Homo sapiens: one gene and its partners. The protein of the gene in region 4 purifies or fractionates together with the protein of the main gene of each other region. This does not show direct contact. Each region holds a gene or a part of one and is shown on either strand. Other genes may lie near its edges.

The links.
Region 1: the proteins of PRPSAP2 (region 4) and NAPG purify together in Homo sapiens (affinity purification with mass spectrometry; 2 studies listed by BioGRID and IntAct, with this or other methods). This does not show direct contact.
Region 2: the proteins of PRPSAP2 (region 4) and FNTB purify together in Homo sapiens (affinity purification with mass spectrometry, with the first as the bait; 2 studies listed by BioGRID). This does not show direct contact.
Region 3: the proteins of PRPSAP2 (region 4) and LZTR1 purify together in Homo sapiens (affinity purification with mass spectrometry; 2 studies listed by BioGRID and IntAct, with this or other methods). This does not show direct contact.

Annotation. Positions count from the first base shown.
Region 1 is NC_000018.10:10,521,412-10,529,366, reverse strand, and holds the start of NAPG (gamma-soluble NSF attachment protein), read right to left. Parts: upstream 3,341-7,955; 5' UTR 3,265-3,340; coding exon 3,209-3,264; intron 2,921-3,208; exon of another isoform or gene 2,793-2,920; coding exon of another isoform or gene 2,602-2,792; intron 367-2,601; coding exon of another isoform or gene 322-366; intron 1-321. UniProt on the Homo sapiens protein: Required for vesicular transport between the endoplasmic reticulum and the Golgi apparatus.
Region 2 is NC_000014.9:65,038,788-65,046,470, forward strand, and holds part of FNTB (protein farnesyltransferase subunit beta), read left to right. Parts: intron 1-2,002; coding exon 2,003-2,132; intron 2,133-5,523; coding exon 5,524-5,656; intron 5,657-5,900; exon of another isoform or gene 5,901-5,982; intron 5,983-7,683. Other genes in the region: CHURC1-FNTB protein, read left to right, coding at 2,003-2,132, 5,524-5,656. UniProt on the Homo sapiens protein: Essential subunit of the farnesyltransferase complex. Catalyzes the transfer of a farnesyl moiety from farnesyl diphosphate to a cysteine at the fourth position from the C-terminus of several proteins having the C-terminal sequence Cys-aliphatic-aliphatic-X.
Region 3 is NC_000022.11:20,984,614-20,992,296, forward strand, and holds part of LZTR1 (leucine-zipper-like transcriptional regulator 1), read left to right. Parts: intron 1-1,227; coding exon 1,228-1,284; intron 1,285-2,890; coding exon 2,891-2,970; intron 2,971-3,396; coding exon 3,397-3,505; intron 3,506-4,175; coding exon 4,176-4,259; intron 4,260-5,011; coding exon 5,012-5,069; intron 5,070-5,772; coding exon 5,773-5,912; intron 5,913-7,014; coding exon 7,015-7,216; intron 7,217-7,600; coding exon 7,601-7,683. UniProt on the Homo sapiens protein: Substrate-specific adapter of a BCR (BTB-CUL3-RBX1) E3 ubiquitin-protein ligase complex that mediates ubiquitination of Ras (K-Ras/KRAS, N-Ras/NRAS and H-Ras/HRAS).
Region 4 is NC_000017.11:18,909,711-18,917,393, forward strand, and holds part of PRPSAP2 (phosphoribosyl pyrophosphate synthase-associated protein 2), read left to right. Parts: intron 1-1,392; coding exon 1,393-1,541; intron 1,542-7,683. UniProt on the Homo sapiens protein: Seems to play a negative regulatory role in 5-phosphoribose 1-diphosphate synthesis.

The DNA of each region.
Region 1 (7,955 bases), on a different chromosome or scaffold from region 4:
TTCAAGCTTACCAAGAATTTCACTGTTCAGAAAAATAATATCCTTAAATTGTGGTGTGTCTACTCAAATCTACAAAATTGAGGAAATATGCAATATGCAAAATGCTAACCCTCTGTTCCTATCCCATAACAAACATTACATTCTGTATATTAACATAATTTTTTTAATCCCACTAAAAACAAGATACAATCACTCCGTCACCTAATGTGCTATACACGGAAAGACCCAGAGAGTTTAAAACTGGGCAAACCATCCCAAGTCACATGAACACCACTAATAAGGAAGAAAGATATACAGCTAATTTGGGTTTAGCAGCCATACCTGTTAGTCCTTTTGACCTTTTTCTCCAAAGAATCAATAAGGAAACTGACCAATTTCCACAGAAAAAAAGAAAACAGCAAAATTACCATCTGTGTGGGGATCAATTTACAAAATTACTCAGCAATATTGAACTACGTCATCATTAGAAAATGGAGAAAAATCAAATATCTCCTAAGCTCCTGGCCCATTTTTCCTACCACCCACTGAGTAACTCTGTCTAGCAGCATTTCAAACTAACACTTCAAGCCTGAACTCCACACCTCCCCGCCCCACCTCCCTGCCCCAGACCTACCCACCAATCACATCCATTAATCTATATCCCCTATCTTGGCTGAAGGCCTCTCCCACTCGTCTCCCAAGTTAGAAACCTAGGAGTTAACTCTTCATCTCTACATGCAGGCACCTCATTAAAGCATGTCAACCTTACTGACAAACATCACCCAGTCCTACCCCTGTACTGTTATTTGAATTCAGGCCATCACCACCTCTCCCCTGAAGTCGACAACCCACTAACATGTCTGGCAGTACCTTCATGGGAGAGTCACCTTTCCTCCTCTTCCATTCCCCACATCCTGAGCATATTACCTTTTCCTTGCTTCCTATCTCTACCATACCACACTGAATACTTCTATTCTAGCACTGAACATCCTATTTTTAGTCCTCTGTTAACTTGTCTGCCCACCTGTGAATTCTAAGCTCTTGAAGAAGGGACCACTTTTGGTTACTCCAGTATCCTCTGTGGCTGGTACAGGTACACAGAGACAACTTTGTAAATGTTCGTTTACTGAATATGTCAAAGTCCATTCTCCACACTGCTGCCACATTTCTTTTTCTTTTCCTTTTTATTTATTTATTTTTTTGATACAGAGTCTTGCTCTGTCTCCCAGGCTGGAATGCAGTGGCGCGATCTCCGCTCACTGCAACCTCCGCCTCTAGGGCTCAAGGGATTCTCCTGCCTCAGCCTCCTGAGCAATTGGGATTACAGGTGCGCGCCACCACAGCCGGCTAATTTTTGTATTTTTAGTAGAGACAGGGTTTCACCATGTTGGCCAGGCTGGTCTCGAACTCCTGACCTCAAGTGATCCACCCGCCTCAGCCTCCCAAAGTGCTGGGATTACAGGCATGAGCGACAGGGCCCAGCCTGCTGCCACATTTCTTTCACCAAAAGCAAATCTAACCGAGTCCACTGGTTGGATGCCTACAATAGCCATGTGAGAAGCTGTCCCTTCACAGTCTGGCCCCAACTCTTTTTCACTCCAGCTCGTCCCCTGGCACTGTGACTACACTACATTCACTGTTCCCAGAGCACATTTTCAGGCCCGCGTATAATACATACTACAGGTTGCGCACAGAATCTCTTTCACAAGATTTTCCCTCCGTCTAAAACATTCCGTATTTTTCAAGCTCTGCTCACAAATCATCTCCTCCTCAAATTTTCTCAGGCAGAATAAACTTCTCCCTCTGGGTTACCTATGCACAGTTAATACAGCTTTTTTGTGGTCCCTATTCCACACACTATTCTTATTACAAATTTTGCGTTTGCTCCCACTAGAAAGCAGAATGTTGTGGGAACCTCCTGCACCAGGAGAGCCCCAGCACCTTACACGCTGACTGCCTCGAGTCATGTGATAGAGCTTGAGTTTTTCCACTGTTTGAAAACTGGCTCTGCGATCTTTCACCTGTGCAGTTGGGGGCAAGTCGTTATGAGGCTTCCCTGAGTCTCATTTCCTCTTACGAAAAATTAGAATCTCTATTTGGAAAGTTATTGTGAAGATCTCAGCTTATGAAATTATGTATGTGAAGCACCCACCACAGAGCACAATGCTGACTTTTTCTTTTCTTTTTTTTTTTTTTTTTTGAGACGGAGTCTCGCTCTGTGGCCCAGGCTGGAGTGCAGTGGCGCGATCTCGGCTCACTGCAAGCTCTGCCTTCCGGGTTCAGGCCATTCTCCTGCCTCAGGCTCCCGAGTAGCTGGGACTACAGGCGCCCGCCACCACGCCCGGCTAATTTTTTGTATTTTTAGTAGAGACGGTTTTCACCGTGTTAGCCAGGATGGTCTGGATCTTCTGACCTTGTGATCCGCCCGCCTCGGCCTCCCAAAGTGCTGGGATTGCAGACGTGAGCCACCGCGCCCGGCCCACAATGCTGACTTTCTATTAACTGTAACTGCCAGATAAAAATGCACTGGAGTAATGAAACGGGGGGAAGAGGCTGCCAAAAGGATGAATTAAGGATTATCAGTTCAGTCCCACAAACATTTGCAGGGTGCCTACTACGTACTGTACCAGAGGTGGCAGGACATACACATCAAAGGACGAACGAAGCACAGTCCCTGCCCACAGGGACAGTAAAATGCCAGATGACAAAGGTTCACCGAGGAGTTTTTGGGGTAAACCTATGGTCCCCTCCACACAGGGGGCTCTTCTAGGGCGGTGGTTCTCAACAGAGCGATGTTGTTCCCCAGATGACATTTTGGGTTGCCACAAATGGGGAAGAGATGCGACCGGCACCCAGCAGGTAGAGGCCAAGGATGCTGCTAACGAGCCTCCGATGCACAGACAGCCCCCACCACAATCTTCAGGAGCAGAGCGCCCAAGTAGAGAAGCCCTCGCCCCGCAGCACTGCGCCGAGTCCCCGCCCACACCGGCTCTGGGGAGCGGACTTCCGGCGGGGTGGACCCACGGCGCTTCCCGAGGCGCCGCAGAGCTGACCCCGACCCCGGGAGTGTGACCCAGAGGACACCGAGCCCCGGCAGCCCTGCGGGCACCAGCGCGCCGAGGCCCCTCAGCCCTGAGCCCTCCCTCCCGCCCCCCCCGGGTGCTAAGGCCGCGCCAGTGAGAGACGGACCCGGCGTCTACACACAGGCCCCCGGAAGGTTCTCACTCACTATTTCTCTGCTTTGGCGAGGTGTTCCAGCCCCTCGTTTATCTTCTGAGCCGCCATCTCCACAGTCAGGTCTCTGACGTGGAGAGAGGGTGACCCTGCCTCTTCCTCCGGCGCCAAGAATCCGCCCAAATAGGCGTGGGAACGCCGAGGAGGAAGCTGGTGCAGCGCGACAGTCGAGCGGCTACGGAGGGCCGGAGGGCCCAAGCCGCTGCGACGAAGCGGGGCTGGGAGCCTGCCGGTGCGCCCCGCAAAGAGACATTGCGCAGGCGCAGCGCGTCAAGGCTGGCCCCACCTAGGGCATCTAGCGCAGGCGCGGTGAGATACTGATGGGGCGTATTCTTTCATTCAATATTTGCAAAGCACCTAATATGTGTCAGGCACTATTTTAGATGCGGGAAGATCAGCAGACAAAAACTCCCGCCCTCTTGAAGTCTTGCTTTTTCATTAATGTGAAACTGCTGTGGATCCTGTTTGTAGGGTTAATTGGCTTTATAATTTATTACATCTGAAGTTTCTCTGTATGACAGATAGAATAGTATTCTTCTATCCATTCTGCCTTTTGGGTATTAATTGTATGTCAGTCAAGAAACGAAACAGACTTGTAAACCCTGATTACTGTCAAATAATCCGCGCCCAACCCAAATAATCGCTCTAATATTTCAAGCCGTGATAAGTGCTCTAAATGGGAAGTTGAGGGATCTAAAGTCGCGTACAGTGGTCTGGTAAAAATAGTAACCAGTAATACAGTTGGCTTCATTCATAATTCATGGTGATTTCAATATCCACATGGATGATTCCTGCAATGACTATACAGCCTCTCAGCTTCCAACCTCCTGTGATCTTTCCCACACTAGCGCAGCCACACATTCCTGGGATCACACCCTTGACCTTACTCATAACTGTGTACCCTCCGTAGTGTCAGTTTCAAACAGCTCACTTTACTTCCCCTTTCCATTCCAGCTCATACCTCCTAGTGCTAGTAATTACTTAACCTTCACCAGATTCCTCACCTTTCCCTATCCCTCTGCTCTTACACGTCCTTCTTTTCCCAGCATAAATTCATGTCCCATCATTTTAGTGCGTATACTCTCAACGGCCTTGGCTCCCTCTCCCTCCTTTCTCCAAGCCAGGAAAAACCCCAGCTCTCCACCTACTCTGGAACTGCTCTTGAGCAAGTGAATTTGACTGGAAAAAAACAAACGAGGATGCTAACATTACTCATTTTAATGATCATAAACATTAAGCCGACCTTTGGTGCTGCTGAGCAACTCTCCTATGTTTCCATGGTCAAATCACTCACCCACTCACTTGGAGGGCTGTTCACACCTTCCTTCTCAAAACTCCTACACAATCTCTGCTTGCCTGCCAACTCTCACTTATTGTTGAATATGAAATAACTATTCGAAGAGTTCTTCCCTTTGGCCTCACCACACAATCGATCGATCTTCCTGCATCTATTTGCCAATCAATATTTTGCATTTTTTCTAGTGCCAACAGGTGAACTGGCCTTGGATTTTTTTCTCTATCCTCACTTTCTTATTTAGTACCCACACACAAGACCCCTCTTCATTTGGTTGTCTAGCCTGGGCTTCCTTTATAGGAAGGCAGCAGAATTTCAAGAGAGTGAAAGTGGAAACTTCAGGCTTCGTAAGGCCTGGACTCCCACTGCACATTACTTCTGCCACATTTTATTGATGAAAACATGTCATAAGGCAAGTTCAGATTCAAGAGGTAGGAAAATAGAGGAGTGTAAAATACTTTGGCCATGACTTCCAATTCACCACAACTCTGGGATGACTGATTAAATATAAAAGGACTGTTACCAGTGGAAAGCCTTATGTTTTCAAGTGAGTTTAGATTTATTAACCACCCAATACCATCACCCTCTAAAACCATTGAAAGTGCCCAGAAAGTTTTCTAAGCCTATAACCTCCTCCACATTCTCCCTTATTTATTCATTCATTATTGAATTATTGTTTACTGAATGCCCACTCTGCACAAGACATTAAGCCTACACACCTAGGACCCAATTGTTGAGCAAGAGATATAATGCCTGCCCTCATTGCATTCATGATCTATGAGAGGATACAATATTTAACTTAATTTTACTTTGGCATCAACAAAGAAAGAATGGGAAAAAAACCCCACGATAGTGATATAGCAGTTATTAAGAAATACTTTTTAGGCAGATAGTAAGGGTAAATGTTCTCAGTGGAAATTTTCCTGTTTTAAGAAACAACCCCTGAACCATCTCTTTTCTAACAGAAAAGGCAGCTTGAAGAGCCAGGCCCGCAAGCTTTGATATGCAAATGTCAGTCCTTAGAAACTGAGTTCACTCAACATGGTGATTCCGCCATCTCTTCCTTGTCATCAGGTGTACCAAGTGTCATGGCCACCTCCAGATAACACCATGTGTTCAGAACATCACGGTGACCTGTATTTGCATATTAAAGGGCTAAGGTGGGAGGGCCAGGTTTTTCGAGAGCTATGTAAATGACACACCTGGTCAAACCAATCCCCTGGGCCCTATGCAAACCAGACACCACCTCCTCCAGGATCCCAATATAAGCAACCACTTTTCCACTGCACACTGGGTTTTCTCTTTGTTCAAATCCTCCCTACCTCTGTCTCTGTATGGGGGAGGTGTTTTCTTCTTCCTTCCTTCTTTCTTGCCTATTAAACTTTTCACTCCTTAAAACCACTCCACGTGTCCGTGTTGTTAATCCTATCAGCACGAGACCAACAACCCTGGTGTTCCTCCATTCGTTGGAGCTATATCAATAGCCATGGGCATTCAAGGGTTCTATGTTTCAAAGGACCCTTGACCAGGGAAGCCGTGGTAAGTATGTGCTAACATGCATTCATAGTAAAGGGGAGAAGAAGAGAGAGAATGGGCACAGTAAAGGTGTAACACAAATGCCCCCACTTTCTTCCCCTCCCCTTCTCTTCCTGCAATAACATTGAGGTGGGAGTTGAGCAAGGGGAATTTAAACTGAGAAGTCAGCTTAGAAGAACTGAGAATGGAAAGCATGGACCAAATGATGATAGACTAAGACGTGTAGTTTCCCAAGCTAGAATCGATAGTGTGACCCCAGGCCTTGTTGACCCATAAACGTAATTCTTGTTATCACAGCAGCTACCACCAGAACCTCAGCAAAAGTTGTCTTTGTGACTTCAACTTACCTCTTGCCTCCTCTCCTAAGGCTCTTTAGACGCTCATGTCCTCCCTCACCTACCCCGTCAACATACAGACTTGCTGGCTGCTGGCCCAAGTGATTCCATCTGAGCCAATCCTCTCCTCTAGTTCTAGAAACTCTTTTTCTTTATCCTGCCTCAATAAAAATGTGCATTCCTGAGTGATCTACTTGTTTTGGATGTGACTAAAATGATTCACATCAAAGTGTGAATGAGGCTTAAAATAGAGCTTGCAAACCCCATTCCTTCTCTCATGGTGGGCTTAAGTCTCTGAGAGTTCTTTAAGCCTGCATCCCCAGGTTCCTTGTCTACACAAACCTGCTTCCTTCCCCTAGCCTAGTCTGCTGCCAGGAAGCAAAATCCTTGGACCTACCTCCCACAGCTGAATGTTCCAGTCAAATAAAAGGTCTTTGTCATTTCTTGGAGAGAGGGTTTGATGGGTCAAATGAGCTCTATTTCAAATCAGGAATCATAAATAAGGAAACATAAGAGCTCCTATATCGCTAAGTTTTCTTTGTTTGTTTAATTGCTAGTAGCCTGACTGTGTAATTTTACCCTTTTCCCCCACAAATATACTGTTATGTTATACAAGAGATACACTTCTGAGACCCAGCCCAAGAGGTTAGCCATGAATCATAAAATCATTTCTCTGGGAAAATATATTCTGAGTTATAAATAACGAATTTACAAAAAACCTTTGGAACAAATTCTGCTATCATTTGACAGTTCCTTTCATCAGAATAGGATTTTAGAAGATTGTTCTTGGCTTTTTTTCTGATAAAACTAATAGAAGCCATTATGATCTGTATTTTTTTTTCTGGTTAAGTGTTAATGAATACATTGACTTTTAAAAATCACCACTGAATCTCTATGAGATTAATATGGAGAATTCGTTCTCCAGATTCCTGTGTCCAATGCCTTCTTAGCAGCTCCACCTAGACATCTAAAATGTCATACATAATCTGTTCAAATCTGAGCTCCTGATGCTCCCATACCTGCTCTCCCTTCAGGCTCAGCCATGCTGGGTTCATGGCAGCTTCACCCTCTCCTTGCCCAAACACTTGGAGTCATGCTCCTCTGCTCTTTCTGTCGCACAACACATGCAATCTGTAGGAAATTCTGTCGACTTTGCCTCCAAAAAGTGCCCAGAGGCAACCACGTCTCCTCATCTCCCTGTCCACAGCCACCGCGTAGTCTGTTAGTTGCCATCGTCTGTGACTGCACTCACCATCTGTGTTCAGAACACAGTGCAGTGCGAATTCCAGAGCAGAACTCAGTCAATTTTGGCTGAAAGTCCTGTGTCATTACGGAAGAAGAGGAAGAAGCATTTGGACACTTGGAAGGTGTTTTCTCTCAAGTCTGGCCATGGCCCTTCTTCAAGGTAATTTCTTTTCTTTCTTTCTTTCTTTCTTTTTTAAATTATTCTTTCTTTTTTTTTAGAGACAGGGTCTTACTCTGTCACCCAGGTTGGAGTGCAGTGGCATAATCATGGCTCACTGCAGCCTCAAACTCCTAGCCTCAAGCAATCCTCCTGCCTCAACCTCCCAAGTAAC
Region 2 (7,683 bases), on a different chromosome or scaffold from region 4:
TACTTTGAGAGATTCTCTTAGTATTTATCTTCTAATCCTCTTGTTTTTATTTTTGTAATCCTATTTTTAGTTTTCCTCCCTGACTACTTTTACTTCCTGACTACTTTTTTATCTACTCTCTTGTTCTTTTCTGGGGATATTTTGTCCTCTCAATAGTCTTACTTCATATAATATTTTATCTAAAGATACAACTTTAAAAAGTTTTCTTTTGCTCCCTGTCTTATTTCCTCCAATTTATTTTTGTTTGTTTTGGTCTCCTCTTTCATAGTAGAGACTGTGGTCAAATGTCTGGTACTCTACAGCTGTCTGTTCATATTTAAGGATCCAGCACTGAAAAGCTGCTGGGGAGCTCTGCGAGAGTGGGCAGGATCAAGCCATTCATTGGGGAATTCTCAAAGCAGTGTCTGTAGGGTTTTTCCCTTGGGCTTATCAGTTCCCTCAGAGAGGAATCTTCTAAATTCCTGCTTGGGGTATGAAACTGGCAGCCTTGTGTGAAATACACAGAGGAATGGGGCTGGGGGTATTGTGTTGAGATTACTGACTCTCACGTAATCACATTTGGTACAGTGCTCCCTCCTCCTCTTAGCTTGTTGGATATTCTGGAACTCAGATCCTTTTGATTAAACCTCTGAAACTTCCCATCTTCTGCTGGATTTGAGTAGGGGACTTAAAGGTCTGATTCTTATATAAGTTTGCAACCAACAAACTTGGTTCAGACGCATTCCACTTTGTGGAGGTTCCCTGTATCTCTAATCCTGGAGCCTTTTATTGGAGCAGATCACCTTGCTTTTTGTTGCCCCTCTCCCATCCCTATCCTTTGGGTAGGAAAGGTTTCTCTATTCTACTAAGTCAGTTATTTCTTGTCCTTCTTGTGTTAGTCCATTTTGTGTCAGTATAAAGGAATACCTGAGGCTGGGTAACTTAGAAAGAAAAGAGGTTTATTTGGCTCATGGTTCTGCAGGCTGTTTAAGAAGCCATCACCACCTGGCCTAATTATAATTTTTAAAAATAACGTTTATTTTTTAATAGTATACAGGTTCATTATAAAAACTTTTTGAACAAATAGAAAAACAAAAAGGAAAAATATTACTAGTAGACCTGTACTCAAAGATCACCAGAGGCCAAGTGCGGTGGCCCATGCCTGTCATCCCAACGCTTTGGGATGCTGGGGTGGGAGGATTCCTTGAGGCCAGAAATTTAAGACCAGCCTGGGTAACATGGCAATGCCCCATCTCTACAAAAAATACAAAAAATGGTCCGGGTATGGTGGGGCACGCCCATAGTCCCAGCTACTCAGGAGGCTGAGGTGGGAGGATTGCCTGAGTCCAGGAGGTTGAGGCTGCAGTGAGCCATGATCTGCAGTCAACCTAGGTAACAGAGTTAAGACCCTGTTTCAAAAATAAAAGATCACTAGAATCAACAATCACTCTTTAATTTTATTTTAACTTGATGGTTATCACTATATATATATGTATATATATGTATATATATGTGTGTATATATATATATGTATATATATGTGTATATATGTACATATATGTATATGTATGATTTTATAACTTTTTCCCAAAGAGTAATAATTTGAATTATTATGTTTCTTACACAAGTAGGCTGTTTCTAAGTGTCTGGGTTTTTAACATTTTACAGTTTTTATTATACTTACATTTTTTGGAGACCTAGTCTCACTCTTTCACCCGGGCTGGAGCACAATGGTGTGATCATAGCTCACTGCAGCCTCGAACTCCTCGCCTCAAGTGATCTTCTTGCCTTAGTCTCCTGAGCAGCTGGGATTACACATGGGTGCCACCAGGCCCAGCTTTTTTTTTTTTTTTTTTTTGAAAAGACATTTCCAAAAGTTAATTAGTTGGCATCTTTTCATTCATAGTTGTGATGGTTCACACCTTAATCTGAGTGAACTTTTTCTCTGCCACCTAGGATGGTCCTGGTCTTGTGTACGTCCACTCACTGGCCACTCATTCTGCTTTTCTCAATCTCTTCTTAGGTGTCAGAACTGGGAAGGTGGCATTGGCGGGGTACCAGGGATGGAAGCCCATGGTGGCTATACCTTCTGTGGCCTGGCCGCGCTGGTAATCCTCAAGAGGGAACGTTCCTTGAACTTGAAGAGCTTATTAGTAAGTATCTTTTGAGCCATCCCCCTCTCAGGCCCCAGGTCATGGTGATGTGATTGTACTCAGACATGCAGGCTTCAGGAGAGTTTGGCTATGGGAAGGGCTAAGAGAGTTAGCTCTGTTCCAACACAGAGGAAGGAGTGAGCAGCTGCTCTGTCTTGGCTCCCCCTTCTGCCTTTCTGTCTTCCTGCTTAGAGCTTTTTACATAGTGTGTAGACTACATAGACTGTGTGCTGCAGACATCTGGTGTGAGCAGAGTACCTTCCTTATACTTCAGTTTCGTAGAATTAGAGGTTATCGTGTGTTATAGAAAGAACCTCCTAAGAGGAAAAGTTACAAGAAGAGCTTTGCAGCATTTCGAAACCAAACTTTTATTACCTGCTGCACTGTGTAAACATTTAGTACCTACATTTAAATGAGTTGTTTAGGCAGAGCTGGCTAATTGCATTGAGAAGGCAGCCCAACATTTATGTCTGGACCCCACGCTCCTGGCCAGTATTCAGAAGAAACTCAGAAAGCAGTCAGCTTCAGGGAGTCACTAGATTGTAGTTAAATGATCAGTGGGTGCACAAACACACACACCTCCACGGCCACCAGGGAGAAGGCATTCCCCGTCATGTCATTTGGGGAGCATGTACCCCCTGACCATGACGTCAAAGCAAACCAGCTGCAACTGACATGCACCTCCTCTCCCTGAGTTCAGATGCCAGCCTCCCGTTATGCGGCCCATCGTGAGCTTCCTGGAGAGTTTCTGTTGTACCCTGTAGACATGTAACCAGCAGTGTCTTGCCTCCACCTTCAGAAAGCCTCCCCCGGTGTAGTCTTTTTAAAGATTCATGAAGGCTTGAAGGCTCATGCTGAAACAGCCAACTTTGTATGCTGAACTTAAGAGTTTCTCAGATGTTTTAAAATCTGAACACCAATAAGGCATGAAACAAAAAAGTCCCATCTCCCAGGCAGAGATAAGGAATGTGATTAGGGAGTGCCTCAGTTATAAAGACAGTGTTCTAGATTTGAACCCTGTCCCTACTACATTTGAGACATGAGTCCTTGGGCAAATTGTCTAATCTCTTTTAGCTTGATATTTTTTTCTTTTATAAGGTAGGGATAACAATCCTTATTTTTTTAAGGTTAAAGGAGAGAACATTTATAAACAGCCTGGCACATAGTAGGTACTTAATAAATGTTAGTGTCCCTCTAACCCACAGTAATAATCTTTTTGGCACAAGGGACCAGTTTTGTGGGAGATAATTTTTCCGTGGACCTGGGGTTGGGGGTGGGACGGGGGGTGATGGCTTCAGGATGATTCAAGTACATTACATTTATTGTGTACTTTATTTCTATTATTACACTGTAATATATAATGAAATAATTATACAACTCACCATAATGTAGAATCAGTGAGAGCCCTGAGCTTGTTTTCTTTCAACTAGACAGTCCCATTTGGGGGTGATGGGAGACAGTGACAGATCATCAGGCATTAGACTCTCATGTAGAGCGTGCAACCTAGAAGCCTGGCATACACGGTTCACAGTAGGGTTTGCGCTCCTATGAGAATCTAATGCTGCTGCTGATCTGTCAGGAAGTGGAGCTCAGGCAGTAATGGGAGCAGTGAGGAGCAGCTGTAAATACAGATTAAGCTTCACTGGCTCACCCACCACTCATGTCCTGCTGTGCAGCCTGGCATGGTCTGGGGGTTAGGGACCCCTGCTCTAATCCAGACTACTCCCTTCCATTTGCTTTGGGAGAAGTAGGACCCATATCTGAAGTATGAATTCCTATAGCCCAAGGAAACAGAACAAATCCATGGGCTTAGGCACTGGAAAAAGTAAATTAGTCTGCTTAAAAACACTTAAGCCCTGCGGTAAGTAGAAATGAGGAACCGACTCCCACTGCAGCGCCTGCTTTCTCTCTGCCTGAGTAATGCTTAGCCCACTTCCATTACATGCTGGAAGCCCTGGTTCATTTAAGATCAACCGAGGATATATTAGTACCTGAACCTGCAGTACAGTGTTTTCTGTCTCTTTTAAGCATTTGTGACTGTGACTCTCTATGGGCAGGTGTTGCCTTGAAGAGGGAATAATCTAAACAACAGCTTTTAGGGGAGGGCTGGCCCCCACTTCCATCAAGGGTCCCAGTGGCTCCTTTCAGGACCTTTACCTAGTAAGACTCTAGAAACAGGAAGTACCCTCCCCTGTACCCTTTCAGTTGAGTGAGGCAGCTCTGTAAGTCCGTGGCTGGAACGGCCTAGGTGGTCTAGGGAGGGAAATGGAAATGTCATATCTGCTCAGCCAGTTGGTTCTGCTCATTCTGAGGGACCAAACCCATGACTATCTTGATCTTTGTAGTAGAGTGTGTTTAGAAAACTTGTAGATAAGCAAGGAATGGTGGTATCGTGTGTGACCGCTGAGTGACATCAAGACCAAGACCTATTTTACAGCTTCAAAGTAAAAGATTTTCTTATATCAGCCACAGACTGGGCAGAGTTGTCATTTGGTAATTAGAATGAATGGCTTCTGCTTTCAGGCCTGCTAGTGACTTGCTAAGAGACCTTGGGTAAATTTCCCCAGGTGCCAAGTAAAAGTCAGGAGCAGTTTGAGATCATCTGATGAAATGTAGTACCAGGCCGGGCACGGTGGCTCACGCCTGTAATCCCAGCACTTTGGGAGGCCGAGGCGGGTGGATCATGAGGTCAGGAGATCGAGACCATCCTGGCTAACAAGGTGAAACCCCGTCTCTACTAAAAATACAAAAAATTAGCCGGGCGCGGTGGCGGGCGCCTGTGGTCCCAGCTACTCGGGAGGCTGAGGCAGGAGAATGGCGTGAACCCGGGAAGCGGAGCTTGCAGTGAGCCGAGATTGCGCCACTGCAGTCCGCAGTCCGGCCTGGGCGACAGAGCGAGACTCCGTCTCAAAAAAAAAAAAAAAAAAAAAAAAAAAAAAAAGAAATGTAGTACCAAATTCCATTTATCTGCTTTTAATAAACTCCCCGGAGCAGGGAAGTAATGAGAAATGAGCTACTGGTAGTCTTGCCTTCAATTTCCAACTTAAGCCATGTTTATTAAGAGACTTTGAAGGTCTCCTTACAAACCAGCTTGGCCTCTTTATCTTCTCAGCACTGGCACTGCTTTGGAACCCAGGAAAAGGTAGTTGTCTGCCAGGCATTGAGCAGAGATCAGTGCTGGATGCCTCTACAGCGTTGGCTTAAATGCTTCACTCTGTGTCTATGGCAGTGTGGGGAGGGAAGGAAAGAAAACCAGAGCACCAAAACTAGAGTGCCAAGAAGCCACAAGATGGGAAACCCTCCATCCCACAGATTGACTCCTGGAGATTCTGTCGGGCTGGATTTTGTCTCTTTTAGCCTACAACTGCCTTTCCCATCTGTGTCTCCTCAGCAATGGGTGACAAGCCGGCAGATGCGATTTGAAGGAGGATTTCAGGGCCGCTGCAACAAGCTGGTGGATGGCTGCTACTCCTTCTGGCAGGCGGGGCTCCTGCCCCTGCTCCACCGCGCACTGCACGCCCAAGGTGAGCCTGGGGAGCTGTTCACTTGGGGCTGGATGATTTCCCTCCACTACTCACAAAGTCTGGAAGCCCAGCGTGCTTTTTTAGAGGGGTTGAAATGAGCTCTGTCTATCCTGGATTTTGAGTGCCCAGTGTGGAACCTCATGCCGTGGGGCATGCGAATGCAGAGTAAGATTTAGTTTCATTGGTTTAGTGTCATTCTTTGCTTCTTCAAATTGGCTGCGACAGAATGAGCTTCCTTGAAATTGCTACGGGGAGCGGGGAGGAAGTGGGCGCTGCTTCTGCGTTATCTGGAAGGAGCAGCCCACTCCTGTCCTGGGCTCTGTGGTGATTGCCACCTCCTCTGGGTGCAGGGCAGAGCTGAAAACCCTCAGTGTTGCAACAGTCACTGTTGCAACAGCAACAGGAAAGGCAACTGCGTAAAGGGGTAGAGAACCAGAACCCATGTGTAGGGGTGGGTTGTAGGGGTGGGTTGCCCCTACACCATGGAGAAGAGACTCGCCGTGTCTGACTGGCTGCAGAGTTGTCACTATTAGAAATGTTTTATTTTACATTCATTGAATAAGCCTAAATGGGAGTTTGTTCCACCTGCACCATTGGAGTAGAGAAATCCACGTTCGTTTCTGTGGGGTCTCAAATGGGAACGCAAAACCGAAGTAGTTAGTGAGCAAAAAGTCTGGGAACATTCTCTCTCTATCTCTTGAAACCTCAGTCTGCCTGCTAACTCCTGCACCATCTTTCTGGTGTACTTGATGTGAGAGCAGGTGTCTCTGAGTAGACCTGTGGGAGAGAGGAAGTCATGGGGCCCTGCTGGTTGCTGATCTGTTTTTGGAATGAGATCCCTGGGTCCAAAGAGAAGCTGTTCTTCGGACTTAGTTGGATAATGTAACTGCTCAAATGTAAAAGATGAGATTCTTTTCTGCCCCTCCCCATACTTTTTTTTCCTGTTTCTGAGCCCCCCACCCCCCGTCTTCCCCCCTCCCCGCCGCCCCCGAGATGGAGTCGTGCTCTGTCTCCCAGGCTGGAGTGCAGTGGCACGATCTTGGCTCACTGCAGCCTCCACCTCCCAGGTTCAAGCAATTCTCCTGCCTCAGCCTCCTGAGTAGCTGGGACTACAGGCGCGTGCCACCACACCTGGCTAATTTTTGTATTTTTAGTAGAGACAGGGTTTCACCATGTTGGACAGGCTGTTCTTGAACTCCTTACCTCAGGTGATCCGCCCACTTCGGCCTCCCAAAGTGCTGGGATTATAGGCGTGAGCCACCGCACCCGGCCCTGAGCCTCATTATTTAGTTTCTTAATTTCCTTTGAGTTGTTGAGTTGTGACCATTTCTGACACTGAATTAAAGTAAGCAGAGCCTCTGTCCCATTTTCCCGGCCTGGGCCCACTGGGCTTTAGGTGTCAGTATTAAGGCATATAAGGCACTTACCCTTGGAACACAGCAAGTGCACTGTCAGCAAGTGCACTGACTTTGGAGCCTGCACAGTCTCTGCCTTGACCACCAGTAGGGAAGTCAGGAATTCCCCAAGTCAAACATTTTTTATTTTAGTATTATTTTTTTTTGAGACGGAGTTTCACTCTTGTTGCCCAGGCCGGAGTGCAATGGATCACTGCAACCTCTGCCCCCTGGGTTCAAGTAATTCTCCTGCCTTAGCCTCCTAAATAGCTGGGATTATAGGCATGCACCACCACGCCCAGCCAATTTTGTATTTTTAGTAGAGACAGGGTTTCTCCATGTTGGTCAGGCTGGTCTCGAACTCCTGACCTCAGGTGATCTGTCCGCCTTGGCCTCCCAAAGTGCTGGGATTACAGGCGTGAGCCACCGTGCCTGGCCCAACATTTCTAAGATAGAAAAAAACTTGGGGTCATGGTGATCTCTTTATTTGGAACTGGTGAGGTCAAGCCCCTGGTAAAATGGTCAGTCTTTTACAAACCTGTCCCTGGCATGGATAAGACTCAGTAATTCTGCAATCCCAGGGAAATGTGGAATGAGCTATAACAGGAGCACCACCTGTCAAAGTCTTCCAGG
Region 3 (7,683 bases), on a different chromosome or scaffold from region 4:
GGGGGGGGGGGCGGTATCACAATCACCACCAGCTTCTAGGCTCCTGGCTTCCTGGCTGCATGGCCTCAGACACAGCCTTTGAGCCACTAGGCTTTGTTGCCATCTGTGAAATGGAGGTGAGAGAGCACCCACTGGTGCAGACTAAGTGAGACCGTTCAGGGGGCACCCAGCACAGGCTGGGCATGACGGGGCACTGGGCTCCTGTCAGTTTGCCCTTCTTCCCAAGGGCTGGGTAGTGATATGCCAGCTGGTAGTGTTAGGTGGTGCAATGGCCAGTGAATTTGTTTTCTATTTGATTGTATGGCTTTTGCAACAAAGAAATGGCAGGGGCCAGGTGCAGTGGCTCACACCTGTAATCCCAGCACTTTGGGAGGCTGAGGTGGGAAGATCACTTGAGGCCAGGCATTCAAGACGAGCCTGGGCAGGAAAGCAAGACTTCGTTTCTATTTTTTTTTTTTTTTTTTTGAGATGGAGTCTTGCTCTGTCACCCAGGCTGGTGTTCAGTGGCGCCATCTTGGCTCACTGCAACCTCTGCCTCCCGGGTTCAAGCGATTCTGCCGCAGCCTCCCGAGTAGCTGGGATTACAGGCGCCTGCCACCATGCCAGGCTAATTTTTTTGTATTTTTAGTAGAGATGGGGTTTCACCATGTTGGCCAGGCTGGTCTCAATCTCCTGACCTCAAGTGATCCGCCCGCCTAGGCTTCCCAAAGTGCTGGGATTACAGGCGTGAGCCACCGAGCCCAGCCCATTGTCTCTATTTCTTTTTTTTAAGAAGTGGCAGGAAGATCAGAGAGAAGCAAAGGGCCTCTCCTGAGGCACGGGCAAGCACTTGCATTGCAGGGTACAGCTGCAGAGGAAGGGGATTGGGACGTGTGAATAGGGGTTCTGGAGGCTAGGGTGAGGTGTGAGGGTGACTCTGGCCTTTGGGCCATTTCATGCCTTCATGTCAGCTGCTGGTTGGGCTCCTGGTGGCCACATTCATGCTTTGGTCCTGACCCCAGGCAGGCTGGTGTCTGCCTGTGTGGCAGCCCTGGTGCCCATATCAGTTGGGGAGCCTCCTTTGTGGTCACCACTCTTGTTCTTGGGCATCAGCTGGTTGCCTGGCTGTGTTAGTGACCCAGCCCACAACAGCCCCCTACTCTACCCTGGCTACATGCAGTGCCCATCTCTGGGGTCACTGCAGAGTAGACCTGGCTAATGCCACCCTCTCTTCCGGCTGCCTTTCAGGAAGACCATGCTCAATGACCTCCTGCGGTTCGATGTGAAAGACTGCTCCTGGTGCAGGTGGGTGGCCCCGTGCTCCAGGGCCCTGCCTTTCCTCCTAGAACACAGTGGCACAGTGCTGGGTCCCAGTTGCTAGCAGAGTCTCTCTCATCATGGGAAGCTAGAAAGAAGCTTCCAGGAGGAGATAACCACGGCCTCAGGGATGCCACATCCAGAGCCGCCCTGTCAGGCTGAGGAGATCAAGTAACCACCCCGCACCTGCAGCTGCCAAGCTGGGCACACAGGGCGGCACCCTTCTGGGCTGTCCACCTCTACCTCGAGGCTGATGCTAGTATGGGTACAGAAGTTGCTATGTCTTTTCTCTCACACTTGATTTTGTAAGATGGCTAGTAGTTACAAATTAATTTAAAAAATCATTCTGAAGGCTTCACAATTATTTGTCAAAAATTGCTTAAGTATAAAACTCAGAAAAAAGCTAGGAGTTCAAGACCAGCTGGGCAACAAAGTGAGACCCTGTCTAGGAAGATAGATAGACAGATGATAGATAGATAGATAGATAGATAGATAGATAGATAGATAGAAAGAAAGATAGATAGATGATAGAAAGACAAAGAGAGATGATAGATAGATGATAGGTAGATTAGACAGATAGATGACAGATAGATAGATAGTGGATAGATGATAGATGACAGATCGATAGATAGATGATAGGTAGATGATAGGTAGGTAGATTAGATAGATGATGGGTAGATAGATGACAGACAATAGATGATAGATGATAGGTAGATAGATGATAGATGACAGATAGATGATGGATAGATTATATAGGTAGATGATAGGTGGATAGATGATGGATATATAGATTATATAGATTAGATGATTGATAGATGATAGGTAGATAGATAGATGATGGTTAGATAGATAGGTATTAAATGAAATTGATGGACCCCGTGCTGTAAGATGCTGCACTGCTGCTGAGAGCAGGAGTGTGGATGGTCCTGGAGTAGCATGAGGACCTGGTCACATTCTGTGAGTGGAATAAGCAATTTACAAAATATCTGCCACTTGATTCCATTTTAAAAAATTTCATGGAAGCCTAAGTATGCGTAGGAGAGGTGTGCAGGGAAGACCTCAAGGTGTTGCCAGAGGTTTTCTGGTAATGGGAATTTGCATGAGCTTTAGTGCCTATTTTGTTTTTTCCTTATTGGTGATTTTTTTTTTTTAAGTTTCTATGATGAGACAGGTATCACCTTCAAAATACAAAAGTGAAACGTAGCTGGGCGCGGTGGCTCACGCCTGTAATCCCAGCACTTTGGGAGGCTGAGGTGGGCGGATCACCTGAGGTCAGAACTTCAAGACCAGCCTGGCCAACATGGTGAAACCCCGTCTCTACAAAAATACAAAAAATTAGCTGGGCATGATGGTGGGTGCCTGTAATCCCAGCTACTCAGGAGGCTGAGGCAGGACAATCGCTTGAACCCAGGAGGTGGAGGTTGAGCCGGGATCGTGCCACTGCACTCCAGCCGGGACGACAGAGAGAGACTCCGTCTCAAAAAAAAAAAAAAAGAAAAAAGAAAGGCAGCACAGGGATGCAGGGCCACCCTGTGGGGGTGTGGACCTCATGGGTGACCCCCGCTGACTCTCACCACCCCTGTGCCCACCCCAGGGCCTTTACCACTGGGACCCCACCGGCCCCCCGTTACCACCACTCGGCCGTCGTCTATGGGAGCAGCATGTTTGTCTTTGGTAAGCAGCCTCTTGCCTCCCAGGGGCTGTGTCGCCCCGAGGCCCACAGACACCCTGCCCTTCTGCAGGCCTGGGGCATTTGTGCTCGTGCTGTGTACAGCAGGGGCTCTCTCTCCACCCGTGGCTTTGTCTGCCAGTCTTCGGAATTCTGCGCTGGATCTGGGACCCCTTGCCCTAACGGCCCTGAGCTCACAGGGTTGGGTGTCTTTCTGTGTTACTGAGCTGTGGCTGGGAACAGTGTCCTGCTCATCTCTGTGTCCCCAGAGCCCAGCACAGAGGCAGACAGGCAGCAGGTCGTTCCGGGGCTTGTGGAAGGAGTCCTGGCTTATGCATTTTCAGGGGGGCCAGATTCTGCTCCACCTTCCAGGGTTTGAAATCTCCAAGACTGCCCTTTGGGTTTGACAGTTTCTCACTCTCTTTACTCAGGGGGTTACACTGGGGACATTTATTCCAATTCTAACTTGAAGAATAAAAACGACCTCTTTGAATACAAGTTTGCAACTGGCCAGTGGACGGAGTGGAAAATTGAAGGACGGTGAGAAACTTTGCAGAAACATTTGGGACAGGCTGGGTCCTGGGTGGCATTGGACCTGGGATCTGCCCCCTTTTGCCTCCCAGATGAGGACCCTGAGGGCACGCAATAGCAGGGAGCTTGGGATTGGTGGAATATCCCCCGGTGCAGCTATGCATGGCCTGCTCCCAGCCCTTAGACTCCCTCCTTTCAGAAGAGACCCAAATGGACCAGGCGTGGTGGCGCATGCCTGTAGTCCTAGTACTTTGGGAAGCCGAGGTGGGAAGATCACTTGAGCCCATGACTTCAAGGCTGCAGTGAACCATGTGTGCCCCACTGCACTCCAGCCTGGGAGACAGAACAAGACCTTGTCACAAAAAAATGTTCAATAAGATCCAATGTACTGCTGATGGCGCTTCTGGGGTCCCGCTTTTTGAGCACCCCCTTTGATATTTTGGGGGCACCTAGGAGAAGGTTCTGTGCCTCTGTGGCTGTCTGAATTCCTCTTCAAGCCACTAGTCGGCCTCTGGGGCTGTTGTTTATTCCTAGTGCCTTGTGGAGGTCCTGAAGCCCCAGTGTCGGGTGGATGTAGCCATGCAGCCTGGCTGTGGCCCCTGCACTGACCACATGGGGCTGGGTGGCTCAGGTCTGTGCTGGGCGGCCTCACTCCCTCCCCTCTTCCCTCACACTCCAGGTTGCCAGTCGCTAGGTCAGCCCATGGGGCCACGGTGTACAGTGACAAGCTGTGGATCTTTGCTGGCTATGACGGCAACGCCAGGTGGGTGGTGGTCCGGCCTGTGCACCCCACCTCCGACAGCACTGAGACCCGGAGCAGGCCGTCCTGGCATTTGAGGGCTTAGGCTGGGAGGATTTTGAGTGCCTGGTGGATTTTGAGTGCCACTCTGTCTGGGGGTTTCTTGGGAGGGGGATGGGGAAAGAGGAGGATGGACAGATGGAGGTGAGGGCCACTGGGTGGAGCCCCGTGGCTACCAGAGTAGCTTGGATGAGGATCCTCAGCCAGGAGTTGCCCTGCGGAGCTGAGTTGGTGGGCGGGTGGGCGGTGCCCAGGCTCAGGCCCAGCCCTGGTTCTTGCCCAGGCCAAAGGCCTTTTCCTCCTTATTTTAGAAAGTTGGCTTTGCTCTCTTTTTCTGATCACAAAAGTAGCATATGCTGGTTTCCCAAAACTTCAGCATCATAGAAACTCCTAACGATGCAGTGATGGTGGCATCTGGGATATCTGTGTCCTCTCCCCACCCAGGAGGGACACTGAGTGAGGAGCTGGCACTGCCACACTGCCCTGATGTCATGCATGAGAGTACTTGTTCTGTCTGGGCCGGGCAGGGGGCCTGGCACAGCAGGGATTTGAGGCAGTGGCTGCCACCCCACACAGAAGTTCCCGCCTCATGGCCGCACAAGTCTCCTACCCTGTGTGGGGGTGGGGCTCCTCCCTGCAGCCATCCCTTCCAGCCAGGACTAGGCCCACCCTGACCACCAGACCCAAGGGGTCCTCACTGGTCTGTCCTAATACAGGTTGAATGACATGTGGACAATTGGCCTCCAGGACCGAGAGCTCACCTGCTGGGAGGAGGTGAGGGGCGTGGGGAGCCAGGGCGCAGGTAGAGGAGGTGAGGGGCACGGGGAGCCAGGGCGCAGGTGGAGGAGGTGAGGGGCATGGGGAGACAGGGTGCAGGTGGAGGGAGGTGGGAGGCAGGGGGAGCCAGGCTGGGGGTCGAGGCTGCTTTCTTCCCCTTGCAAAGCCCAGCCTCGACCTGAGCCTCGCTCTCCTCCCTGGTGACCTGCGGGCCTTCACGACCAGTTCCTCACTGTGGCTGCACAGTGATTCGAGGTTTGGTGCTTTGGATGGGCAGAGTGCCACGTGTGTGAGGATGTGGTTTTGCTTTAACGCACCCTTTATTTCAGTGCAGTGAGGGCCGTCTGCTATCCAGTGTCCTGCTCCCTGGAGCTCCCCCTGGGCTTGCTTTCCCCTTTAGAAACATGGAATTTATTTATTTATTCATTAAAAAAAATTGTTTTTCAGTCTTCTGGGCATGAAAAACATGAGTTTAGCCCCTGATGATTTAACCCTGACGATTTTAACCCCAGCTGTTCACAACTGGGCCCCGTGAAGTGGATGAGACAGGGCTATGAGCTGTTCCAAGACAAAGGAATCTGTGAATCCTCATCTGGGGAAGTTTCAAGAATAAAAGCAGTCCCATCTCAGCAGTCTCGAGTGTGGTGAAATGTGAGCGGGCCCTGTGAGGCCGGGGCTGAGCTGTCCTCTCCCCCTGCAGGTGGCCCAGAGTGGCGAGATCCCCCCATCTTGCTGCAACTTCCCCGTGGCTGTGTGCCGGGACAAGATGTTTGTATTCTCTGGGCAAAGCGGAGCCAAAATAACCAACAACCTCTTCCAGTTTGAATTCAAGGACAAGACGTGAGTACTCTGGCCAGTGGGGTGGAGGGAGGACGGTCAGTTCCCTCGAATCCTTCTGAATATGAAGAACGCCTCTTGCACCTGGTGGCCATGGTAACCATCCTTGTGAGCTCTGCAAACAGCAGGAGGTTACAGCCCGGAGCAGGGATGTGCGGTGCCCCTGGCAGGTCCCCAGGATATGGCTACAGCTTAGCAAGATAAGGCCTGGCGAGGAGGCCCCTGGCTAGGCCTCCCTCTGAACGTGAAGGACGTCCCCTTCCTCGTGAATAGCTTGGTCAGTGCCACCAGTAACAGACGTGGCCTGCATAGATCTCAAATAATGGCAGAAGACCAGAGGGGCCTGCAGGTCCTGAGAGGTCTGGCCCATGCTGCCCCTGGCTGCTGGCCAGCCCTTGATCCCTGCAATGGGGCTGCAGGAGAGGGCACAAGGAGTGTGAGCTGCAGGTACAGGGGGTTTGGGAAGGGACTTGGGAGCTTCCCTGGAGGCCACGGGTGCGTGGGAGGAAGGGCAGGGAGCCCCAGGATGAGGGAAATTGTCAAGGGCCTGGGGCTCAGCATGGAGCCAGATGGCATAGCCCTGCCAGGCCAGGATCTGTTCTGAAGTCTTCAGCTAACTTAGCAAAAGAGAGGACTTGCTGGGAGGTACTGGGAAGCCTGGGAGGTGGAAGGTGCTGGGGCAGCATCAGGATGTGGGGTACAGGCAGCTCCCAGGATGGGGACTCAGCTGTGGGGATGCTCTGACTGGGCAGCGTGAACACAGTGACCTGCAATGGTCTCTGCACAACTTTACTCCCCAGAGAGCAGGACTGCCTGGGCGGGTCAGATGCCACCCTCCTGCCCATCACTGCTGCCTGCTCCATGGGGAGAGGGGGGAGCTCTGGCAGGACCCTGCGGTGGGCCACATGGAGCCAGGCAGGGCTGGTGCCCGTGCTGGATGGGGTGAGAGGTGCTCAGCGCAGGTGTCTAGGCCCTCCCTCTGGACCCTGGGCTAGTCACCGTAAGGGATGCAGGGGGACCTCCCAGTGAAGGCCTGCTGTGGGGAGGCCCCGAGGGTGAGCAGGAGCCCCTGTCCCAGCATTGATTCACTGTTGTGTACCCCCAGGTGGACACGCATCCCAACTGAACACCTGCTCCGGGGCTCCCCACCACCCCCGCAGCGGCGCTACGGGCATACCATGGTGGCCTTTGACCGCCACCTCTATGTGTTTGGGGGTGCGGCCGACAACACGCTGCCCAACGAGCTGCACTGCTATGACGTGGACTTCCAGACCTGGGAGGTCGTCCAGCCCAGCTCCGACAGCGAGGTGAGGGTGCCCAGGGGTGTCCTGACCTGCCAGCTGGACACCAGTAGCTCCTACCCTGCTCCCACCCAGCTCCTCACAGCTTTGGGGCCCCCTGGGGTTCCAGACAGCTACCAGGAGCAAGGCCAGGACACCTGGGCCTCAGCCCTGGACACCTGCCCCGGCCTCCAGCCCCAGCTTCACCCCACAGCCTGCAGGTAGTTAACGCTTCACACCCCATCATGGCTGCATGGGGCTGCTGTGCTGCAGACCTTTCCTGGGAAGCCCACGGCCATGCAGCTCTTCCTTCTTTCAGAACCCACTCTCAAGGCCAGGATGGTGGGGGTCTCTGGGCACCTACCTGGCCCTTGCCAACTGGTCTCATGCCCATGTGTCTCCCCTCTTCAGGTTGGTGGGGCTGAAGTGCCCGAGCGAGCCTGTGCTTCCGAGGAGGTGCCCACCCTGACCTATGAGGAGCGGGTTGGCTTCAA
Region 4 (7,683 bases):
CCTGGCCAACATGACAAAACCCCGTCTCTACAAAAAATACAAAAATTAGCCAGGCGTGGTGGCACGTGCCTATAATCCCAGCTACTTGGGAGGTTGAGGCAGGAGAATAGCTTGAATCTGGGAGGTGGAGGTTCACACCACTGCACTCCAGCCTGAGCAACAGAGTGAGACTCTGTCTCAAAAGAAAAAGAAAGAAAGAAGGAAAGAAAGCATGTGCCCATACAGAGATCTGTGTATGAATGTTCACAGCAGCTTTGTGACAGCCAAAAACTAGAAACAACCGGAAAGCTCAGCAATACATAAATGGATACACTGTGATATATTCACCCAGCAGAATATTACTCAGCAATGAAAGGGAATGAACTATTGATATGTTATTCCATGGATGAATCTCCAAAACATGTGCTGCGTAAAATAAGACAAAATGGCCAGGCGCAAGTGGCTCACACCTGTAATCCCAGCACTTTGGGAGGTCGAGGTGGGTGGATCATTTCAGGTCAGGAGTTCGAGACCAGTCTGGCTAACATGGTAAAACCCCATCTGTACTAAAAATACAAAAAAGTTAGCCAGATGTGGTGGTGCATGACTGTAGTTCTGGCTATTTGAGAGGCTGAGGCAGGAGAATCGCTTGAACCCGGGAGGCAGAGGTTGCAGTGAACTGAGAAATCCTGCCACCACACTTCAGTCTGGGCGACAGAGCAAGACTCCATCTCAAAAAAAAATCAGACAAAAAAAGGCAACTTTATGATTTCACTTACGTGAAATTCTAGATAGGTGAAACTATAGTGACAGAAAGCAGATCAGCTGTTGCCTGGGGCAACACTTAGTGAAAAATCACTAAGGGGCATAAGGAGATGCTTGTGGTGATGACGTTCCTTATCTTGATTGTGCTAATGCTTATATGGGCACATACAGCCTTCAGAGCTCATGAAATTATATACTTTAGATATGCACAGTTTCTCATATCTCAGTTTTACCTCCCTAAAACTATTAAGAAATTTGTGCTTAATACTTTGGTGAGCATTTTATGCCCTTTGCCCCATGTAGTTGGTTCTCACTGGTAGGTAGGCAGGCAGGTAGAATTAGCAGCTTTAGGTGAGACAGAGCTGAGCGGAGGTTCCTTCACTCAGTCAGGCTCTCCCGGCCAGTGGCTTGCAGACCAGGCCAGGCTGCTGCCCTTCTTTGGTGCTGCTGCAGAGGGAAGTGTTTGGCATGTGGGGTCTCTACAGTTAGTCCTGGTTTCTAAGAGTCTAAGGCTGTTTTATTCTCTCTTTTCTTTAGTCCTTTGGGAGACAACATTCTACTTATGTTCTCTTAATGTTTTGTCCCCTAGGCATTAGCAGAACCAAGGGCTGCATGAGTTTTGAGCTTGTGTCTGGTGTTTTCCCTCAGGGCACAGTCTTTTGCTGAGCGCCTGCGCCTGGGAATTGCAGTGATTCATGGAGAGGCGCAGGATGCCGAGTCGGACTTGGTGGATGGACGGCATTCCCCACCCATGGTCAGAAGTGTGGCTGCCATCCACCCCAGCCTGGAGATCCCCAGTAAGTGTGCTGCTGCCTCTTTCCCACTTTCCTCTGATTTTAAGGCTGACTACACTGTTGTCTGTGTGGTTTTTTTCCTCATTCTTCGTTTTTTTTTAGTTGGCAAAAACTCATTAACACCTTTCTTGGCCAGATAGTAGCGAATGCATTTCTGATTACCTTGTAAATTGTAAGGCCGTTTAGAAGCAGTCTGTCCTTCTTTGCAAGACCTGTGAAAATGTTTGGACTATTGAGACAGTTGCAATGCTTCAGGGAAGTCCATTCATTCATTCAGCAGTATATACTAGAGTGTAGTTTAACATAAGCAAAAAGCTTTTTATATACAAAGTTATTGACTGTGATGTTGTTTTTAATGCAAAATATTAGAAAGGTTTAAATGGTTTACCAGAGTGTAGGGCTTGGTAAATTATACTGTGTCAGTACAGCTAATTATGCAGCCCTTTGAAATAATCAAGACTATCTGGAAACGAGAAAAATATATGGAATATATATGAACAAGGCAGAATATAAGATTGTATACCTATTTGTCTTAGTTCAGGCTGCTGTGATGAAATACCTTAGACTGGGTAATATAAACAACAAATTTATTGCTCACAGTTCTAGAGGCTGTGAAGGTCAAGATAAAGGCGCCAGCACTGACCCCGTGATGGGCCGGGCACGGTGGCTCACGCCTGTAATCCCAACACTTTGGGAGGCCGAGGCGGGTGAATCACCTGAGGTCAGGAGTTCGAGACCAGCCTGATCCACATGGAGAAACCCCCTCTCTACTAAAAATACAAAATTAGCCAAGTGTGGTGGCGTATGCCTGTAATCCCAGCTCCTTGGGAGGCTGAGGCAGGAGAATCGCTTGAACCCGGGAGACAGAGGTTGTGGTGAGCCGAGATCGCGCCATTGCACTCCAGCCTGGGCAACAAGAGTGAAACTCCTTCTCAGAAAAAAAAAAAGATAAAGGCGCCAGCAGATTTGGTGTCTGTCGAGGGCCTGTTCCTCGTAGATGGTACCTTCTTGCTGCATCCTCATGTGGTGGAGAAAGGTGGAAGACTCCCTCAAGCCTCTCTGACAAGGGCACTGACCCCCTTCGTAGAGCAGAGTCCTAACAAACTAGTCACCTAAAAGCCCTACCTCTTAATACCACCACAGTGGGTTCCAGCATGAATTTGGAAGGACACAAAAATTCAGACCATAGCATTTTGCCCCGGCCCCTCAAAATTCATGTTCATCTTACGTGCAAAATACATTCATTCTATCCTAATAGCCCCCAAAATGTTAACTCCGGGTAAGTCTTAACTTAATTTCAGCATCACCTCAAAAGTCTGAAGTCCAAAGTCCCATCTAAATATCATCTAAATCAAATATGGGTAAGACTCCAGCTCTGGGATTCACTCTGACGCACGTTTCTCTCCGGCTGTGAGCCTGTGAAATCAAACAGGTTGTATGCTTCCAAAATGCAATGGTGGGACAGACATTGGATAGACATTCCCATTCCAAAAAGGAGAAGTGAGGCCCAGTGTGGTGGTTCACGCTTGTAGTCCCAGCGTTTTGGGTAGCCAAGGTGGGAGGGTTGCTTGAGGCCAGGAGTTCGAGACCAAAAGGGAGAAGTAGGAAGAAAGAAAGGAGTGACAGGTCCTGACCAAGTCTAAAACCCAACCAGACAAACAACATTAAATCTTAAGGCTTAAGTTGACTCAAAGCCCCGCCTTCCACAAAAACTGGGGCAGGGGTTGGTCTTGCAAAGCTCTGGATGGCCCCACTCCCACAGCTTTGCTGGGAGCAGCCCATGCAGCAGCTCTCAGTCACTGGATTCTCATGCCTGCATCTCTCAGGCTGGAGTTGCACTCTAGTGGTTCTACCAGTCTTGGGTCTTGGGGTGGTCTTGCCCCACAACTCCACTGGGCATTGCCCTAGTGGGGTCTCTCTGGTGGCCCTGCCCTTGTGACAGTTCTCTGCTTGGGCCCTGGCACTCTTTGGGGCATCCTTTGAAGTCTGGGTAGAGGTAGATGTGCCCCCACAGCTCATTCACTCTGTGCACTGTGGAGATGGCCCTGCACGGACACCACTGTGGTTTGTTGCCTGTGCCTTCCAGAGGGGTGGCCCGAGCTATAGTTGGACCTGCTTGAGCTATAGCTGGAGTGGGTAAGGAGTATTCTGGAATGTGGGAAGTGGAGCCTTGAAATCGTTCTGCCCCCAAGACCCTGGCATTCTAGGCTTATGATGAGATGGGCAGTCACAAAGATCTCAGAAATGCCTTTGGGGTCATTGAGTCACTGTCTTGATGAATAGCGTCTGGTTCTTTTTTTTTTTTTTTTTTTTTTTTTGAGACAAGGTCTCACTCTGTCACCCAGGCTGGAGTGCAGTTGTGCGATCATGGCTCATTGCAGTCTCACCTCCTGGGCCCAAGCAGTCCTCCCACTTCAGCCTCATGAGTAGATGGAACTACAAGCACTTGCCACCGCACCTGGCTAATTTTTGTATTTTTTGTAGAGACAAAGTTTTACCATGTTGCCCAGGCTGGTCTTGAACTCCTGAGCTCAAGTGATCCACCCGCCTTAACCTCCCAAAGTGCTTACAGGTGTGAGCCACCACTCCTGGCCGTCTGGCTTCTTTCTATCCATACTAATCTCCTTATCAAATGTTTGCTTGGTGGCTGGGCGCGGCGGCTCACACCTATAATCCCAGCACTTTGGGAGGCCGAGGCAGGTGGATCACGAGGTCAGGAGATCAAGACCAGCCTGGCCAACATGATGAAACCCCGTCTCTACAAAAAATACAAAAATTAGCTGGGCATGGTGGTGCGTGCCTTAAATCCCAACTACTCGGGAGGCTAAGGCAGGAGAATCACTTGAACCAGGGAGTTGGAGGTTGCAGTGAGCTGAGATCCAAGACTGTGCCACCGTACTCCAGCATGGCAACAGAGTGAGACACCATCTCAAAAAAAAAAAGAAAAAAGAAAAGTTTGCTTGGCTACACACTTGGAGTTCTGTCCTGAACATGTTTTTGCTTTTTTTTTTTTTTTTTTTTTTTTTTGAGACAGAGTCTTGATCTGTCTTCCAGGCTGGAGTACAGTGGTGCGATCAGATCTCACTGCAGCCTCCACCTCCCGGGCCCAAGCCATTCTCCTACCTCAGCCTCCCAAGTAGCTGGGACTATAGATGTGTGCACCAGGCCTGGCTAATTTTTTTTTTTTTTTTGGTAGAGACGGGGTCTTGCTTTGTTGCCTAGGTTGGTCACAAACTCTTGGGCTCAAGCAATCCTCCCTCCTTGGCCTCCCAAACTCTTGGGCTTATAGGCCTGAGCCATTGCATCCAGCCTTGCTTTTACATTCTTTACAAGATGGCCAGGCTGATAATTTTCCAAATATTTAAGTTCTACCTCCCCTTTGATGATAAATCTCATCTTTAATTCATCTTCTTGGATTTTAGTATAAGCAGTCAAGAGCAGCCATGCACCCTCTTTTGCCAAAGATTCTATTTCACTGCCCTTTTTTTTTTTTTGAGATGGAGTCTCACTCTGTCACCCAGGCTGGAATGCAGTGGTGCAATCTCGGCTCACTGCAACCTCCAGCTCCCGGGTTCAAGCAATTCTCATGCCTCGGCCTCCTGAGTAGCTAGCACTACAGGTGCACACCACCACACCTGGCTCATTTTTGTATTTTTAATAGAGATGGCATTCCACCATGTTGGCCAGGTTGGTCTCAAAACTCCTGAACTCAAGTGGTCCGCCTGCCTCAGCCTCCCAAAGTGCTGGGGTTACAGACATGAACCACTGCACCCGACCTTTTTTTTTTTTTTTTTGAGACAGTGTTTTACTCTCTTGCTCAGGCTGGAGTGCAGTGGTGTGATCACAGCTCACAGCAGCCTTGACCTCCTGGGCTCAATCGATCCTCCCACCTCAGCCTCCCAAATAGCTGGGACTGCAGGCATGTGCCACCATGTCTGGCTAATTTTTGTATTTTATGTAGAGATGGAGTTTTGCCATGTTGCCCAGGTTGGTTTTGAACTCTTGGGCTCAAAGCGATCCTTCCACCTCAGCCTCCCAAAGTGCTGAAATTACAGGTGTGAGCCACCATGACCAGCCTACTGTCTGTTTTTCTACTAGCATTGTGATCATGACCACTTAGATCATTTCTAAGAAGATTGAGGCTTTCTTTACAGCTGTTTTCTTCTGAGCCTGTCTTAGTCTGTTTTGTGTTGCTATAACAGACTATATAAGACTGGGTATTCTATAAAGAAGACACTTTATTTAGCTCACAGTTCTTCGGGCTGGTAAGTTAAAGAGCATAGCATCACATCTGGCAGTTTCTGGTGAGGGCCACACACTAGGTTGAAACATGGTGGAGAAGAAAAGTGAGCAGGCGGGTGCAGAGAAATCACATGGCAAGAGAGGAAACGAGAGAGCCTGGGAAGCCAAACTCATTTTTATAACAACCTGTTCTCATGGGAACTAAGTGCCCTGAGAGCAAGAACTCACTCACCCCCATAGGAAGGCATTAATCCATTCATGAAGGATCTGCCTCTGTGACCCAAACATCTCCCACTAGGCCCCACCTCTCAATAGCGCACACTGGGGATCAATTTTTTTTTTTTTTTGAGACGGAGTCTTGCTCTGTCGCCCAGGCTGGAGTGCAGTGGTACGATTTTGGCTCACTGCAAGCTCCACCTCCTGGGTTCAAGCAGTTCTCCTGCCTCAGCCTCCCGAGTAGCTGGGACTACAGGTGCATGCCACCACACCCGGCTAATTTTTTGTATTTTAGTAGAGATGGGGTTTCACCTTGTTGCCCAGGCTGGTTGAACTCCTGAGCTCAGGCAATCTGCCTACCTCGGCCTCCCAAAGTGCTGGGATTACAGGCGTGAGCCACTGCGCCTGGCCCAAATTTTTAACATAAGTTTTAGTGGAGACAAACTACATCCAAACCAAAGCAGAACTCTCACCAGAGCTCCCCTTTACGGTCTGTACATAGCAATACAGTCTTTTTCTAGCCTTTTCCTCTTCCAGCCTCTGCCCATTACCCAGTTCCAAAGCCACTCCTGCATTGGTGGGTATTTAATACAGCAGCAACTCACTTCTCAGTACCAATTTCTGTCTTAGTTTGTTAAGGCTACTATAACAAAATACCTTAGACTTGGTATTTTTTTTTTTTTTTTGAGACGGAATTTCGCTCTTGTTGCCCAGGCTGGAGTGCAATGACACGATCTTGGCTCACCGCAACTTCCACCTCCACCTCCCGGGTTCAAGCGATTCTCCTGCCTCAGCCTCCTGAGTAGCTGGGATTACAGGCGCGCACCACCACGACTGGCTAATTTTTGTATTTTTAGTAGAGACAGAGTTTCTCCATGATGGTCAGGCTGGTCGCGAACCCCTGACTTCAGGTGATCCGTCCACCTCAGCCTCCCAAAGTACTGGAATTACAGGCATGAGCCACTGCACCCGGCCAGACTGGGTAATTTATAAACAACAGAAATTCATTGCTCACAGTTCTGGAGACTGGGAAGTCCTGGATCAAGGCACCAGCAGATTGGTGTCTGATGAGGGCTCACTCTGCTCCTGAGGTGGCACCTTGTTACTGTGTCCTCAGATGGTGGAAGGAGCAAGGCAGCTCTCTGTAAGGGCACTAATCCTGTTCATGAAGGCAGAGGCCTTGAGCCTTAATCATTTCCCAAAGGCCCCACTGTTAATACTATCACATTGGGTATTAAGTTCCAACATAGCATTTTGAGAGGACACCATCTTCAGACCACAGCACTCTCTTTGTCTATGCAAAGACCAGGAGGAAATAGGAAGAATGAATGTAGTTGGGTTGGGGTGGTAGAGTTATGCATGAATTTGTTTTTGTGTTTAAGAAACTTCCCCATGCCTTAATAACATCTTCTTAATTAAAAAAAAAAATGCCACCTTCGAGTTGTTGGGGAAGAACCCTAACCCCCTGCCCTCATAGATTCAGTGTTTGGTGGCATATGGACTAAACTGGCAAAAGACAGATGAGGAAGAGGAAAGGCAGTTTAATCACATACATACAGATGTGTGTGATTAAACTCTTTTGTGAGTCACAAAAATGTGACTCGAAGTGGTTACAATTTGGGGCTTATATAGCATCTTAATAGGGGAACAGGAGGGGCAGAAAAGGCCCCTGTGGGAAAACAGATGA